2 separate regions of the Homo sapiens genome follow, and region 2 is linked to region 1. Evidence: fine-mapped expression QTL. A gene starts in region 1. The other region holds a variant in brackets. All regions are shown on one strand. Distances are from middle to middle.

Region 1 (2,898 bases):
CTCAAACCTGGCTACACACTGGAATCACCTGCGGAACTTTACTGATGCCTGGGTTAGAATCTTTATATATTTGGCTGGGGTGCAACCAGGGTGTTGTTTTTTAATCGCAGATGATTCCATGAGTTTGAGACCCACTGTCCTAACACTGTGATCCTCCAAGTGTGATCCCAGGACCAGAGCAACATCACTATCTGGGAATTTGTTAGAAATGCAAACTCTCAGGCCCCACCCCAAACCTACTGAATCGGCAGCTCTGGGGATGGAGCCTGACAGTCCTTTATCCCTGCAGGCGATTCAGATGCTTGCTAAGGTTTCATTAGGTAGGTCGGGGATGCGGCCCAAGAATGTTCATTTCTTGACGTTTCCAGGGGCTGCTGGTGGTGGTCGTGGTCTGAGAACCACACTTAGAGAATCACGAGCAGAAAAAAATCTGATCTGTGACACACAGCTGGTTGGGCTGACAGAGCAAAGCCTCAAACCCACCATTTCTTCTCTTCAACCACAGACCACCAAATCTGCAAGTATTACATCTCTGCTCCTCCCCAGGAGCTGCCCACAAGCACCCCCTACTTCCAAGACCCCTGTTCTTGTCTCAACCCGCCCTTCTATCAGGGTCCCTACACTCCACTTCTGCCCAGCTCCTGTCCAGCTGTGAGTTCACTTGAGGCCTCTCCCGTGAAATCTGCCCTCTCGGTCTGAGGTCAGGGAACTCCTGTAAGACGCAAAAGGCCCACGGTTCTGAGCCAGTGGCCTCCGAAGGCCGGAATCCGCTAGCCCCGGGTCTGGCAGAACGTCACTTGCTGCGCCCTAGGCCTCTTCCCGCCACGCTTAGAGAGAGGGACTGGAGGCTCAGAAGGGGGAAGAGAAGGTAACGCGGCAGCTGCTGGGTGGGGACGGTGACTGTGCCCCTAGATCGCTGCCTCCTGGGTCCTGAATCTTGCTCCCCGCTCCGTAGAGTTCCCGAAACCCCGAAGGCTCTCAAGCACCGCAAGCCACTCCTAACCTCCCCCACGCCATTCCCCAAGGGCACTGTCCCCCGAGGCTGGGCGGGCGGGAACTGTCATGGGATTCGCTCGGGCGGAGGGCGCTGGGCCAGGACGTGGGCGGGCGCGGGGTGGCCGCCGCTCCCCCAAGCTTAAGTCCCGCGCAGCCCGGGGTGGTGCCGGAAGCCCGTGCCTGTGGCTCCGGGGGAGGGGAGGGCTCGGTGGGTCCCTGAAGACTGTCCTCCCCGCGCGACGTCGCAGGCGAAGCAGCCCCAGGCAGGACCTCAAAAAGCGACCTGCAGAGTCCGAGCCCCTGACCGCCCGCCTGCCGCTCCCGGCTTCGCCGTGCACACGTCTCCCGCTCTCCCCGGTTCGTTTTTCGCCACAGCTGCTGGATTCGCGTCTCGCCAGTGGCGCTCCCCGCGCTGCATTAGGTAGCGCCGCGCGGAGCCCGGCCCTGGCCGGAAGCCCAAGAGAGGCGCAGATCCCCGGCGGCGCGCTGGGCTCGGGAGGCCCCTGGGCGCACCTGCCCGGGCGGAGCGGAGCGGGGCGGGGCGGGCGCAGGGCGCGGGCCCGGACGCTGGAGGGGGCTGTGGCTCTCCCGCGTCCCCGCTGCTCGGGCTGCGCGGCGCCCGCCTCCCCCCGCCGAGGGGCCGGCCCAGACCCGGGGAGGGGCGGTGGCCACTGCACTTCCCGCTCGCCGGCCTCAGAGGCGGCGGGTCCGGCGCGGGCGCAGCGGTGCGGGCGCTCGGCTGGGGCGCGGGGCGGGGACGCGGCCGCTGCCCGCTTTGCGCCGCTCCTCCCTGCGCGAGTAGCGCTGGCCCCGGCGTCGAGGCGGCCATGGCGACCCGGAGCCCGCTCCCCACCCACCCCGCCTGCTCCGCCCTCCCCTCCGCCCCGCGCCACCTTTGATGGCTCGGACCTCAGCCGGCCACCGCCAGCCCTGCTCGCGCGCCCGCGCCGCCGCCGCCCGCGGGTATTAATAGCCGGCGCCGCCGCGCCCTCGGCCGCCGGGGGCTTGGGAGCCGCCGATCCCGGAGCCCGAGCCGGGAGAGGGAGCCGCCGCAGCCGCCGGCGCTGTGGAGGTAGGAGGCGCGCGGTGAACAATGACCGCGGCGGGAGGGCGGGGGCCGGCGGGGTCCGGGCCGCGGGCGGCAACTTGTGCGAGTCCAGGCTCCCGCAGCGCACGGCCGCGGCTGCGGGCGAAGGTGGGCGCGTGGTCCCCGAGGTCCTGCCCTGCGCAGTCGGGCGGCGGGTCGGGCCCGGGCAGCCCCGGCCACCATCGCAGGAGCTCGGGGGCCTCGGGGCTCCGGGCTGCCCCCTGCGCCCCTCTCCCCTCACCTCCGCCGACGTCGGGCTGCGGGGCTCCGCGCCGGTCCCCGCTCGCCTCCCCCGACCCCGGCGCCCTTCCCCCGTTTCCTTCCGTCCTACCCGCCCGCTGACAGCGCTGGACGCCGCTTCCGGACCTCGGGCCGCAATCTCGGCCCCTGAGGCCGGTTGCGGGCCGGGGAGGTGGCCGCTGGCGCGGATGCCGCCGGGTGCCCGCCGCTCGCCCACGCGCGGCGCGAGGGTTCCCGGCGGGTGACAAAGAGGAACACACCCTCTGCCCAAGTTAGATTTGTGTCTCTCTTTACTGTCTGCCTTTATGCAGGGCAAAGTTTTTTTTATTTTTTATTTTTTAAAGCAAAGGACAGATTGCTTTGCGGCGAGTATTTCCAAACAACTTCTGATTGTGGTTTTACGATTCAAGTTCCGGAAACTTTAGCTGTGTGATCCGGCTGGACCCCGGAGACTCTGTGTGTGTGTGTGTGTGTGTGTGTTTTATTTGAGGGGGGGAAATACGAATTCCCTGTAATGAGTCTGGATCTCGTTTGTGGCAGCTGGAGGCCAGCGGCTGTTGGGGATCGAGTAGGGT
Region 2 (2,898 bases), 66 kb after region 1:
GGCTGGATTTATGATTGAATTAAACAGACTTTTCCATGTACAGCAACAGTCTGCATGCAAGTATGATAACAGAGAGAAAGTATGACATACTTTGTTCAAGCATCAGTATCCAGAAGTAGAAATAACCTAGACATGAGATCATTTGAGAACTAAAGAGAAAGGAAGTTAAGCTACCAAGTATCTGTTAATGACTAACTCAATTAAATTTTTAAATGCCAAGGTGCTAAAAATTAGAATATATATTTATCTGGGGATTTTGGGCAAGAGGGAGAGAAAGGATTCAGTTCAGAGGATGAGGAGTCTTGCTTTTTGCTTAGGTAGGACAAGGAGAAGATATCTGCAGGGAGGGTCTGAGCACCTTTAGGCTGGGGTGAGGTGGGAGAGTAGAGCCCTTCCTTCCTGCCGTCATCGGCTCCCTGGATGGGCATCAACACCATAGCCAGGTCCATGCCTGCTTGACTCAGAGTGACAAGCCCAGCTATAGCCCAGTGTGAATTACCGTGCACAGGGCCTGTCCCTGCTGAGCAAGTGCAGGGCAGAAGGGGTGGGGTGGGGGAGGGGCCACACCAAAGTACGAAAAGTGCATGGAGGGGCTGGGAATGGGGAAGGCCAACTTGACTGATGGCATAGTTTTCTCTGGAGATTGCATTTATTTTTAACCATGAGACAGTGAACAGAAAACATATATGGAATAGAAGTAATTTTGCCTGGCTTGTGAAGATTATTTTGGACACAACTGACTTCATAATGAATATACTGCTCCCCGACCACCACCTCCACACACACACACACACACACACACACACACACACACACACACACACACACACACACACACTTTGATTCATTGGCCCAGTATTGAGGATCTCTCTTCCACTTCGGTGAAGGGCACTAGGCTGGGATTCTAGATTAACCAGGCTGGTCTCATCTCTCAAGGCTAATGAGTGAATGAACCAAAGCAGAGATCACACAACCAAACAGATTAGAAACAGATGCTTAGAAAAAGCTTATTTGAGGCAGAAGTGAGAAAGGCACTTATATAACAGACCTGTGGAATCAGGCATTCAAAAAAGAAGGGGCCAGCGTGGTGGCTAACTCCTGTAATCCCAGCACTTGGATCATTTGAAGTCAGGAGTTCAAGACCAGCCTAGCCAACATGGTGAAACCCCATCTCT[A/C]CTGGGGAGAAAAAAAAAAAAAAAAGCCGGGCATGGTGGTGGGCATCTGTAATCCCAGCTACTGGGGAGGTTGAGGCAGGAGAATCGCTTGAACCTGGAAGGCAGAGGTTGCAGTGAGCCGAGATTGCGCCATTGCACTCCAGCCTGGGTGACAGAACAAGACTCCATCTCAAAAAAAAAAAAAAAGCAGTTCTCAGATCTTCACTCCATATGTCATCTGGTAACACTGGGGTTCTGAGACAGACAGTGTTAGCTCCAGAAGCATTGCCTGTCTTAGAACCCCTATGTTACCAGACGACATAAGGAGTGAATAAAATCTTCAAAAGGCTTTGATGGACCGTAGGTGAGGAAGGTGAGTGTGGGAGAAGTCAGGAGTAAATGGTGTTTCCTAGACAGTGATCAGGTGTTTCCTAGACATGTTCGATGGAAGGACACGCCCTTTTAGGCCCTGGTGATTTGAGTCGCTGTGGATGTGATCCCATAGTTTCTGATTTGCTGACCTCAGGGCCAGCCCTTGTGTCTATGGTGACAGCATTAGAGGTTTCATTGCAGAGGAAGTAAGGAATTCATTAGGAAACTTCTGGGGACCTACTCTTAAGGAAAAGGCTGAGAATGAGTTAGGGAAGAAAACTCTACAAAATGAGATTTGGAAACCGGATGGTTTTCCTGAAGAGAAGGCTTTAACACTTTCCTGAGTTTTGTTTGTTTGTTTTTGTATTTGAGACAGAGTCTTGCTCTGTCACCCAGGCTGGAGTGCAGTGGCACGATCTCGGCTCACTGTAAGCTCCGCCTCCCGGGTTCACGCCATTCTCCTGCCTCAGCCTCCCGAGTAGCTGGGACTATAGGCGCCCACCACCATGCCCGGCTAATTTTTTGTATTTTTAGTAGAGACAGGGTTTCGCCGTGTTGTCCAGGATGGTCTCGATCTCCTGACCTCGTGATCCACCCGCCTTGGCCTCCCAAAGTGCTGGGATTACAGGCGTGAGCCACCGCGCCCAGCCAACTTTCCTGAGTTTTAAAGCAGTGGTAGAAGTTTCCAGGTGAAGAAAGAGGGCAAAGTGCTGAGCCACAGTGAGCCACGTGTGGAGACCTGGAGGCAGACAGAGGCAGCGGGAGGGGAGGGAGAAGCTGAGGGATCAGGAGACAGACTATCTGGGGAGGAAAGATTTTTTTTTTTTTTTTTTTTTTTTAAGGAAAATAACTTTGTTGGCTGGGCACGGTGGGTCACGCCTGTAATCCCAGCACTTTGGGAGGCTGAGGCGGGTGGATTACTTGAGGTCAGGAGTTCAAGACCAGCCTAGCCAACATGGTGAAACCCTGTCTCTACTAAAAATACAACAATTAGCTGGGTGTGGTGGTGTGCGCCTGTGATCCCAGCTACTCGGGATGCTGAGGCAGGAGAATCGCTTGAACCTGGGAGACAGAGGTTGCAGTGAGCCAAGATGTTGCTATTGCACTCCAGCCTGGGCAATAGAGTAAAACTGTGTCTCAAAAAAAAAAAAAAAAAAAAAAAAAAAAAAAAAGAAAAAGCCGGGGGTGGTGGTGCACGCCTGTAATCCCAGCTACCCGGGAGGCTGAGGCAGGAGAATTGCTTGAACCTGGGAGGTGGAGGTTGCAGTGAGCCGAGATTGCGCCACTGCACTCCAGCCTAGGTAACAGAGTTTGAGATTCCATTGCAAATAATAATAATAATCATAATAATAATAGTAAAATAAAATTAATA

What was found. PIP is the estimated chance that this variant, and not a neighbour inherited with it, causes the effect.
Region 2: its variant is the best candidate, but not a certain one, in a credible set for the expression of FARP1 in fibroblasts (GTEx, PIP 0.56).

What each region holds. Positions count from the first base shown.
Region 1 is chr13:98,141,425-98,144,322 of GRCh38, forward strand. It overlaps FARP1 (FERM, ARH/RhoGEF and pleckstrin domain protein 1), which reads left to right and starts at 1,670. Exons shown (of 27, transcript NM_005766.4): 1 at 1,670-2,068. It overlaps LOC105370328 (a long non-coding RNA gene), which reads right to left and starts at 2,486. Exons shown (of 3, transcript XR_931670.4): 1 at 2,415-2,486. RefSeq lists silencers at 1,121-1,170, 1,411-1,720.
Region 2 is chr13:98,207,132-98,210,029 of GRCh38, forward strand. All of the region lies in intron 1 of FARP1 (FERM, ARH/RhoGEF and pleckstrin domain protein 1), which reads left to right. MIR3170 (microRNA 3170) reads left to right here and starts at 1,393; the gene lies at 1,393-1,469. The variant A/C (reference allele first, on the strand shown) is at 1,176.